2 separate regions of the Homo sapiens genome follow, and region 2 is linked to region 1. The links come from fine-mapping of genetic effects on gene expression. A gene starts in region 1. The other region holds a variant in brackets. All regions are shown on one strand. Distances are from middle to middle.

Region 1 (5,372 bases):
GAAGTGTCCTCAACTCCTCCCGCTGCCAAGGAGCATTTATCTGGTTTCCCAGTGACTCCCAGTCTGGAGGTTACTTTCCCCAGTGCTGTCTCCCATGGTTTCCTACCTAACATCTTATTTCTCTTTCTCCAGTTTCTTCTCTGCCTTCTGTCTGAAGGCTTGTATTCTATTTTTGTTTCAGAATGCATTTCTCTTATGCATTAGAAATGTTTTCATTATCCATTAACTCTAAACAAGAACCTAAAGGCATATAAAAAAACCCTTAGCATAGAACTGCTGAATGACTAAGTCACAGAGAAGAAAAGGCAAATACCTCCACTGCTTCGAAGACTGCACACGCTAAAACTACACAAATGCCAGAACAGAACATTGGATTATCATTATCAAAATTAGGGGAAGGCTGGGTGGGGTGGCTCATGCCTGTAATTCCGGCACTTTGCGGGGCCAAGGTGGGAGGATTACTTGAGCCCAGGAGTTTGAAACCAGCCTGGGCAACATGACAAAACCTCATCTCTACAAAAAATACAAAAACTAGCCGGATGTGGTGGCATGCACCTGAAGTCCCAGCTACTAGGGAGGCTGAGGTGCAAGGATCACTTGAGCCTGAGAGATTAAGGCTGCAGTGAGCCGTGCTCGTGTCACTGTACTCCAGTCTGGGTGACAGGGCAAACAAAAACAAAAATTAAAAAATCAGGGAAAGTACACTGTGAACAAATGTTTATTCAGCAAATTTTTCAAATTATTATTATTATTTTTTTGAGACCGAGTCTCACCCTGTAGCCCAGGCTGAAGAGCACGATCTCGGCTCACTGCAACCTCCGCCTGCCGGGTTCAAGCAATTCTCCTGCCTCAGCCTCCCGAGTAGCTGGAACTACAGGCATACGCCACCATGCACAGCTAATTTTTTGTATTTTTAGTAGAGACAGGGTTTCACCATAGGGGCCAGGCTGGTCTCAAACTCCTGACCTCGTGATCCGCCCACCTCGGCTTCCCAAAGTCCTGGGATTACAGGTGTGAGCCACTACACCCAGCTCAAATAATTTTTTTAAAGTATATTTTCCAGTTTTGTTTTGTATGGCACTGACTCTGTCACTGTGAATTCCATTTTACCCAAAACATTGACACTTCCACACATATTTATGAATCAAAATTGAAAGATAATTGCATTAATAGGTACTTTTATTTTTTTCTTCTTTTGTTTTGTTTTGTTTTGTTTTTTTAAGACGGAGTTGCTCTGTCACCCAGGCTGCAGTGCAGCGTCGTGATCTTGGCTCACTGCAGCATTCACCTCCTGAGTTCAAGCGATTCTCATGCCTCAGCCTCCTGAGTAGCTAAGATTACAGGCATGGACCACCACGCCTGGTTAATTTTTGTATTTTTAGTAGAGATGGGGTTTCACCATGTTGGCCGGGCTGGTTTTGAATTCCTGACCTTAAGTGATCTGCCCGCCTTGGCCTCCCAAAGTGCTGGGATTACAGGCATGAGCCACTGCACCCGGCCGACTTTTGCAAAGGAAATTCTTTGAATCTGAAGTGTCTTGCAAGGTAGAGGCTATTGCAACCATTTCAACTAGTGTGTCAACAGTCTTCTCTAAGGTGGGCTAGAAAAATGGTTTCATATTCAAATTGTAACTCTGAAAAACAACTGATGGTAATAAAGAGATTCCATAATCAGACAGAACTAAGTGAAACAATTAGTTTTGGTAGAGTTCTGTGGTAATCATAGTTAGAAGTTTATCCTGGGTAGCTGAAATATAACTAACTTCAGACTCCAGGCCTGTCGGTGGCTTGTGCCAATCACCACAACACTTTGAGGGGCCAAGGCCAGAGGATCGCTTGAGCCCAGGAGTTCAAGGCTGCAGTGAGCTATGATCACACCACTGCACTCCAGCCTGGGCAACACAGCTCTTGTTTTTTAACAAGACATTGTTACTTAAAAAAAAACTGCCCTGATGAAACAATTCTACCATGAACACTGATGTTGTTCTGTGGACTACTTCAGGAAGATGGACTAAGAACATCATTAAATAGTTCCAACCAGTTTCTGGGTAATTTTATTTTTAATTTTTTGTTATGAGGGTCTTGCTATGTTGCCCAGCCTGGGCTCAAATGATCCTCCCACCGCGGGCTCTCAAAGTGCTGGGTTTACAGGTGTCACACCGCGACAGCCAAGGGTAACTTTTTTTTATTTTTATTTTTGAGATGGAGTCTCGAACTGTCGCCCCGGCTGGAGTGCAATGGCGCGATCTCGGCTCACTGTAACCTCCGCCTCCAGGATTCAAGCGATTCTCCTGCCTCAGCCTCCCGAGTAGCTGAGATTACAGGCGCCCACCACCACGCCCAGCTAATTTTTTGTATTTTTAGTAGAGACGGGGTTTCACTATGTTGGCCAGGCTGGTCTCGAACTCCTGACCTCGTGATCCGCCTGCCTCGGCCTCCCAAAGTGCTGGGATTACAGGCGTGAGCCACCGCGCCCGTCCAAGGGTAACTTTTTAAGAGCTGCCCTACAGCTCATTACCTCCTTCTCAAGGAGCATGAGTGTCAAACCACCTCCAGCAAAGTAGATGTAGTCTTTTACAGATTTGGAAAGAAGGATTTAGGAGGAAAGGGAAGTCGTTCGGAATGAAGGATTTCCTCCTCTGACGCCCAGCCGTCCCCCGTTAAGCCTAAAGGTGCCAGACCTCAAGACTCTTCTAGAAAGAGATTTTTCCTTTCCAAGGTGAATCCATCTGTTCCGAAGGTCAGAAGCTATTTTACCGAAGTTTTCCGTTCCACTGAAAAAATTAAGGGTCAATCAAAGCTCCTTGCCCCAAACCTGAATATGAGCTTGCCTCGGGTCATATTCGACTCTAAAGACTCCACCACACCATCCTGGACTCCCCTATATCTAGGACAAAAAGCGACCAGTTTCTCAGGGGCTCCTTGCGGGGAGCTTACCGCGCCCTCACTGTCCGCCGGCCCGAGTGCTACCGGAGATCACCAGCGGCCCGGACGCCAGCGAGTGGAACATCTCGGTCGCACTCTCATTGGTTCCAGGGGGCCGGAAGTGCGTGCGTCCAGCGGAAGTGCTCCCCCGGCGCGGTCCGCCAGGCCAGTGCCCTCAGGTAGGCGGGGCCCCTGGCCCTAAACTCTGGGACTGGCGGGCGGTCAGGCGGCACAGGGGGAATCCCGGGGGCCTAAGGAGGTTGTCCCAGTTTTTGTCAGGTAGGCCCGGAAGGAGTTTCGGGGACCATGGGTTTACGGCTACCTCTGGTGGCAATTGGGGCCTGTTGGAGCCCGGCCGCCGCGGGACCTACGTGCCGGACTTCAAGTTCCCGCGTGGGGTGGGATTTGCTGCGGTGGCCGGAGCTGATTCTTCACCCAGTCCTGTTGGTTCTGGGCCAAACCCTCCTCACTTTCAAGGAAGAGGCGTGCTCTCCGCCCTTACCTTTTCCAAGCCTCTGGGTTTGACGCCATCCCTCAAGGCGTGTCCGGATGCGGGATTTTCCTCAAAGACCCTCTCGGCCTCGCTAGGAAGAAACTCAGAAAGGCTGCGGTAGGCGCAGTCGAGGGGGAAAGTGCCCCCGCCCTTGATGTCTCAGGCTGCTCAAGTGGAAGTTATCTGGACTGCCTTAGGGCAAGTTTATATATAGCAAATAAAATTACTTGTTAATGGTTTCCTTTTTTCCAGCATCTCCACCCCGAGGTGGTTTGAACTTTGAGCCTTTTGTAGTCCTGATGAATAATTTCATTTTCCTCAAGTTTATGACACTCGGAACGTCAAGAACTGGAGGTTTGTGCAATTTGAGACCGGTCGGCACTGTGCAGAGATCAGAGTACTAAGAGACAGGTGAGCATGAATGAGGACCCTCCGCTCCAGATATAGTGTCTGAGAGCGGTTTCTGTAGTTTCGTAAAAGTGAAAAGTGCACCACATTTAGTGACTACTAGGTGGTGCCAACGAGTTAATCTTTCGGGGATAAATCTCAACTAATGTAGTACCAGGTTAAGGCTTTTAAAATGCACCCATTTTTACTGAAATGTATTCAGAATAGCTTTAGCTCCTTAAAATATGTTGAGCCTTTATATACGTGACCAAATTATCGACGTTCTATTCTGTATTAGGTACTGAGAAAGCTGAGAGAGGAATCAGACTCATATTCTGTTCTCCAGAGTTTAGTCAGAGGAGATAACGTATTATAATAAAATCATATATAATTAAAGGCAGAAATAAGTGCTAAATAGAGAATAAGATTTGAGCTGGGCGCGGTGACTCACGCCTGTAATCCCATCACTTTGGGAGACTGAGGCAAGTGGATCACCAGAGGTCAGGAGTTCAAGACTCGCCTGGACAACATGGTGAAACCCCATCTCTACTAAAAATACAAAAATTAGCCAGATGTGGTGACGCATGCCTGTAGTCCCAGCTACTGGAGAGGCTGAGGCAGGAGAATTGCTTGAACCCAGGAGGCTGAGGTTGCAGTGAGCCGAGATCGCGCCACTGCACTCCATCCTGGACGACAGAGCGAGACTCCGTCTCAAAAAAAATTTTAAAAAAAAAGATTTGAATGCTAAAGAAGAAGCAATCAATTCTCATTATTCATCTACCAGTTGTTTATTCGGCACTTTTTGTCTGTCCAAGATTGTGCTGGATGCTGGTGTATAAAGAAAAGGTAAAGGCCGGGTGCGGTGGCTCACGCCTGTAATCCCAGCACTTTGGGAGGCCGAGGCAGGCAGATCACGAGGGCAAGAGATCGAGACCATCCTGGCCAATATGGTGAAACCCGTCTCTCCTAAAAATACAAAAATTAGCTGGGCGTGGTAGTGCGTGCCTGTAATCCCAGCTACTTGGGAGGCCGAGGCAGGAGAATCTCTTCAACCTGGGAAGCGGAGGTTGCAGTGAGCCGAGATCGTGCCACTGCACTCCAGCCTGGCGACAGAGTGAGACTCCATCTCAAAAAAAAAAAAAAAAAAGGTAAAGGCTAGGCACGATAGCTTACACCTGTAATCCCAGCATTTTGGGAGGCTGAGGCAGGCGGATCACCTGAGGTCAGGAGTTTGAGACCAGCCTGGCCAACATGGTGAAACCTCATCTCTACTAAAAGTACAAAAATCAGCTGAGCGTGGTGGCGGGCACCTACATTCCCAGCTACTCGGGAGACCGAGGCAGGAGAGTCACTTGAACCCAGGAGGCAGAGGTTGCAGTGAACCAAGATCATGCCACTGCACTCCACCTGGGTGACCGTGAGACGCCATCAAAAAAAAAAGAAAGAGGAAAGAAAGAACGAACGAACGAAAGAAAGAAAAGGTAAAATCCCTACTTAAATAATTCACAACCTAGTGATTGGGAGGAAATCAAGGAAGACCTTGTAGAGAAGGTGACACTTGAACTAGA
Region 2 (5,372 bases), 420 kb after region 1:
CCCAAAGTACTAGGATTAATGGCGTGAGCCATGGCGCCCAGCCGCCATGTCCTCTTACTCCCATTTTACAGATGAGCAAACTGAGCTTGGGAGAGGTTAATAACTTGTGTGGAGTTATGATGTGAACCCAGCTACCCCTGCCTGCAGAATGGGAGTGCCTAACTCAGAGCTGGGGCAGAGGTCAGCACACTCTCCCTTAGGTCAGGCCAAGTGGGTTCAAATCCCAGCACCCTGGGCACCTCACATAGCCTCTCTGAGAATCTGTTTCCCAAACTGTTGAGGGCAGATGGAACTGCCTCAACAGGACCTGGCTCACAGGGCTGTGGTAGGATTACAGACGTTAACTGTGCCTCAGCCAGAGAAAGTGCCCAGTAAGGAGAAGCCCCATCATTGTCATGTTTTCGGTCCCCAGCCCTCAATATGAGTTTCAGCCAGCTAAGCGCCGTGGATCATCCCTGCAATCCCAGCACTTTGGGAGGCCGAGGCGTGTGGATCATTTGAGGTCAGGGGTTCAAGACCTGTCTGGCCAACATTGCGAAACCCCGTCTCTACTAAAATTACAAAAATTAGCCGGGCATGGAAGCAGATGCCTGTAATCCCAGCTACTTGGGAGGCTGAGGCAGGAGAGAATCGCTTGAACCCAGGAGGCAGAGGTTGCATTGAGCTGAGATCGCACCATTGCACTGCACCCTGGGCAACGCAGTGAGATGCCATCTCAATTATATATATATATGTGAGTTTAAGCCACATTGATTGTGGGCGGGCAGCTACCAGTTGGAAAAGCTGCTGGGTGAGAGACTTGGAGGATCCTCAGCATACAAAGTGGGTTCTATGTTCTTGTCTCCAGAGTGTTGCTCTCCTCAGCCTGATACCCAGCGCCAGCTGCTCTGAATACCAAGGGGTGCTGCGCCAGGGGCATCACCATGGATGTGGCCATCCCCTAGGGAGAAACCACAGCATCTGGACCCACAGCAGCTTCCAAGCAATGAATGAGTGGGGGCGGAGCAAGAGAAAGCACACGGCCGACCTATTGCCCAGGCTGGTCTCGAACTCCTGGGCTCAAGCAATCCTCCCACCTCGGCCCCCAAAGTGTTGGGATTACAGACGTGAGCCACCATGCCTGGCCAACAGGGTAATTGGTAGACAAAACACATAAGACATAAGAACAAAGCTGGGAGTCCCAGAGGCTCAGTGCAGATAATGCAGGTAGGCGTAGGCTCCAGCTGATGTCACCAGCAGTGACTTCTGCATGCGTCAGGGAACTGCTGAGAGACAGAGCAGCTTCAGGCTCTGAGAAGTCACTTTCATTTTTCAATGGGGTTTTTTTTTTTTTTCCTGAGACCAATTGCCCAGGAGGCAGAATCAGGACACTCTCTAGAGGGCCAGCAAGCCTCGGGGCTTTGAAGATTTCATTACTGCCTAGAAATTATTCTTTGTTCACTGCCCTCCCAGGGGAGCTGGCTCCGGTGGCAGACCTGGCATCACCACAGTCTAAGTAGGGCAGAGCTGGGGTGCTGCCGCTCTAGGCCCAGCAAAACAGAGGGGCAGGCCTGCAGAAGGGACCCAGACCCTAGCGAACATCCAGAGAGTGCCGGCTCTGCGCTTTAGTCATATTGACTCAATTGTTCCTCAACATTGTCAAGTGGGGACTATTTTATTACTGTCCCCATTTTACAAATAAGATGACTGAGGCACAGAGGATTTGAACCAGTGCATTTCAGCTCCAGAGTCTGTGCTCCACCCACTGCCAGGATGGATTAGAGACTCCAGGCAGGGAGCATTCCCAGCCTTTCTTCCTCTGACATCAGTTAAGCCGACCTGTAAGCCATCTTTCCCCTTGACCAACCTCTTTGTGCTGATTTTTTTTTTTTTAATTTTTAGTTTTTAGACAGAGTCTCACTCTGTCGCCCAGGCTGGAGTGCAGTGGCACGATCTTGGCTCATTGAAACCTCCGCCTTCCAGGTTCAAGAGATTATCCTGCCTCAGCCTCCCAAGTAGCTGGGATTACAGGCGCCTGCCACCATGCCTGACTAATTTTTGTATTTTTAGTAGAGACGGAGTTTTGCCATGTTGGCCAGGCTGGTCCTTGGCCTCCCAAAGTACTGGGATTACAGGCATGAGCTGCCGCGTGCAGCTCTCTTCGTGCTGATTTGTGAATCTGTTGCCAGTGAGGGGAAAGGAAGGAAAGCCAGATGTGGAAGGAGATGCACTGGGTTCTCATTACCAGGCATGGTTTCATGAGGGCCTGTGAGATGCTCACCATCAGAGCTCATGAACACTGAGCACTTCAAGGCATGCTCTGCCACTTTCAGGAGTGTGACTGGGACTACAGGTGCACGCGACCACACCTGGCTAATTTTTATATTTTTAGTACAGACAGGGTTTCACCATATTGGCCAGGCTGGTCTCGAACTCCTGACCTCTTGATCCGCCTGCCTCGGCCTCCCAAAGTGCTGGGATTACAGGCATGAGCCACCACACCCAACCCACTGATGGTTAATATTAAATGTCAACTTGATTGGATTGAAGGATGCAAAGTATTGTTTCCGGGTGTATTTGAGACAGCCAAGGAAGAAGGGCTCCCTGGAGATCTTTTAACCGGCCTGAGTACCGGGAGGAGTGCGCACTGGGGTGGAGCCTTGGGAAGTTTGGGCTGTTTGCAGTGGGGAGGAGCCTGGACTCTCCAGTTCCTGGGTGGTAACCTGGGATTCAATCTGTGAGGTGGGAAACCTACGAGCAGGACCCTCGCTTTGCTGACAGTTCCTGTTTCCCCTTTTGTCCTTTTGGCCCAGTAAATTTCATTTTTCTCACCCTTCAAAGTGTCTGCGAGCCTAATCTTTCCTGGTCGTGTGACAAGAACCTGAATTTTTCTTTTTCTTTTTTTTTTGAGATGGAGTTTCGTTCTTGTTGCCCAGGCTGGACTGCAGTGGCTCGATCTCGGCTCACCGAAACCTCTGCCTCCCCGGTTCAAGCGATTCTCCTGCCTCAGCCTCCTGAGTAGCTGGGATTACAGGCATGTGCCACCATGCCCGGCTAATTTTGTATTTTTAGTAGAGATGGGGTTTCTCCAAGCTGGTCAGGCTGGTTTTGAACTCCCGACCTCAGGTGATCCGCCCGCCTTGGCATCCCAAAGTGTTGGGATTTTCCTACAACATGTCTG[G/A]GTGTTGCCAGAAGAGATTAACATTTGAGTCAGTGGACTGGGAGAGGAAGACCCACCCTCAGGAAGACCCACCCTTAGCGTGGGTGGGCACCATCTAATCGCTGGCCACCACGCCCGGCTAATTTTTTGTATTTTTAGTAGAGACAGGGTTTCACTATGTTAGCCAGGATGGTCTCAATCTCCTGACCTTGTGATCCACCCGCCTCGGCCTCCCAAAGTGCTGGGATTACAGGCGTGAGCCACCGCACCCGGCCAGGGATGACTTTGAATAGACTAGGAGGCAGGTTTGCCCTAAACAGTTCCCAGCTTGACTTTTCCCTTTAGCTTAGTGATTTTGGGGGCCCAAGATAGTTTCCTTTCACAGAACAAGCTTGGATTGTGTGAGGAACTGAAAGGAGGCCCGTGTGGCTGAAGCCTGGGGAGCCAGGGGTGAGAGATGTGGGGGATGGAGAAGCAGGCAGGGTTGGTGCCAGGCCAGGCAGGTTGTGTGATGTAGACACAGACTTTTACCTGGACAAGCTGGTTTTACCCTTCTGTCCAGGGACTGTCTCCATACATCCTCCTTCATATGCTGAATCTTCATTCAAGCCTCATGACTTTGAGACGTGGCTGAGCCACACATTTGGGGAGAACAATCCGGCTTACAAAGCCAACCGTGTGGACAGGATTGCAGAAGAGATTCAGTTCCAGAGTCTGCATTCTGGAGCTGGTGGGAATTCTGAGTGACCGACAAGGCCCTGATTCATCCTTTGGTCCCTGTGTGGTTAATTTCTTTCTTCCTTTCTTTCTTTTTTTTGAGTCAGAGTCTCGCTCTATAGCCCAGCCAGGCTCACTGCAACCTCTGTCTCCCAGGTTCAAGCGATTCTCCTGCCTCAGCCTCCCGAGTAGCTGGGATTACAAGTGTGCACCACCACACCCAGTTAATTTTTTTGTATTTTTAGTAGAGATGGGGTTTCACCATGTTGGCCAGGCTGGTCGTGAACTCCTGACCTCAAGTGATCTGCCTGCCTCTAAGAGGGGAGACCATCCCTCATATTGTCTTATGCCCAATTTCTGCCTCCAAAGAAAGAAGAAGTAAAAACTAAAAGGCAGAAATGAAATCCACAAACAGCCCGGCGCCACACCCTGGGCCTGGTAGTTAAAGATCAACCCTTGACCTGATCGGTTATTTGCATAAAAAAAAAAAAAGCCCGAGCGAGGTGGCTCACGCCTGTAATCCCAGCACTTTGGGAGGCCAAGGCGGGTGGATCAGGAGTTTGAGACCAGCCTGACCAACATGGAGAAATCCCCTGTCTACTAAAAATACAAAAAATTAGCAGGGCTTGGTGGCACATGCCTGTAATCCCAGCTACTTGGGAGGCTGAGGCAGGAGAATCTCTTGAACCTGGGAGGCGGAGGTTGTGGTGAGCCGAGATCGTGTCATTGCACTCCAGCCTGGGCAACAGGCTTTGAGACTCTGTCTCAAAAAAAAAAAAAAAGCACTGTGAAGATCCCTGTCCTGTTCTGTTCCTTTCTAATTACCGGTGTATGCAGCCCCCAGTCTCATACCCCCTCCTTGCTCAATCCATCACGACCCTCTCACGTGGGCCCCCTTAGAGTTGTGAGCCCTTAAAAGTGACAGGAATCGCTCACTCGGGGAGCTCAGTTGTTGGAGACATGAGTCTTGCCGAAGCTCCCGGCCTTCTTTAACTTGGTGTCTGAGGGGTTTTGTCTGCAGCTTGTCCTGCTACACCTCAGCCTCCCAAAGTGCTGGGATTACAAGCGTGAGCCACCATGCTCAGCCCCCATGATGGTTAAATTCATGTGTCAACTTGACTGGGCTAAGGGTACTCAGATGGCTGGTAAAACATTGTGTGTGTGTGTGTGTGTGTGTGTGTGTGTGTGTGTGTGTGTGTGTGTGTGTGTGTATGTGTATGCTTCCAGAAGAGATCAGCATTTGAATTGGGAGACCGAGTAAAAAAGATCTACCCTCACCTATGTGGGTGGGCATTGGCCAATGCTCAATAGAGCAAAAAGGCAGAGGAAGGTGATTTCACTGTCTGCTTGAGCCGAGACATCTGTCTTCTCCTGCCCTTGGACATTGGAGCTACTGGTTGTTGGGTCTTCAGACTGGACCAGGACTTACACCATTGTCTTCCCTGGTTCTTAGGCCTTTGGGTTTGGACTGGAACTGCACCACTGGCTTTCCTGGGCCTCTAGGTAGCAGATGGCA

Evidence for each region. PIP is the estimated chance that this variant, and not a neighbour inherited with it, causes the effect.
Region 2: its variant is the best candidate, but not a certain one, in a credible set for the expression of LZIC in testis (GTEx, PIP 0.56).

What each region holds. Positions count from the first base shown.
Region 1 is chr1:9,941,080-9,946,451 of GRCh38, reverse strand. LZIC (leucine zipper and CTNNBIP1 domain containing) reads left to right here and starts at 3,061. Exons shown (of 8, transcript NM_032368.5): 1 at 3,061-3,203; 2 at 3,670-3,828. NMNAT1 (nicotinamide nucleotide adenylyltransferase 1) reads right to left here and starts at 2,977. Exons shown (of 5, transcript NM_022787.4): 1 at 2,937-2,977. RefSeq lists enhancers at 2,892-3,461, 2,729-3,928, 3,462-4,032.
Region 2 is chr1:9,525,236-9,530,607 of GRCh38, reverse strand. No RefSeq gene overlaps it. Among named protein-coding and RNA genes, the nearest start is that of SLC25A33, 12 kb to the left of the region's middle. The variant G/A (reference allele first, on the strand shown) is at 3,161.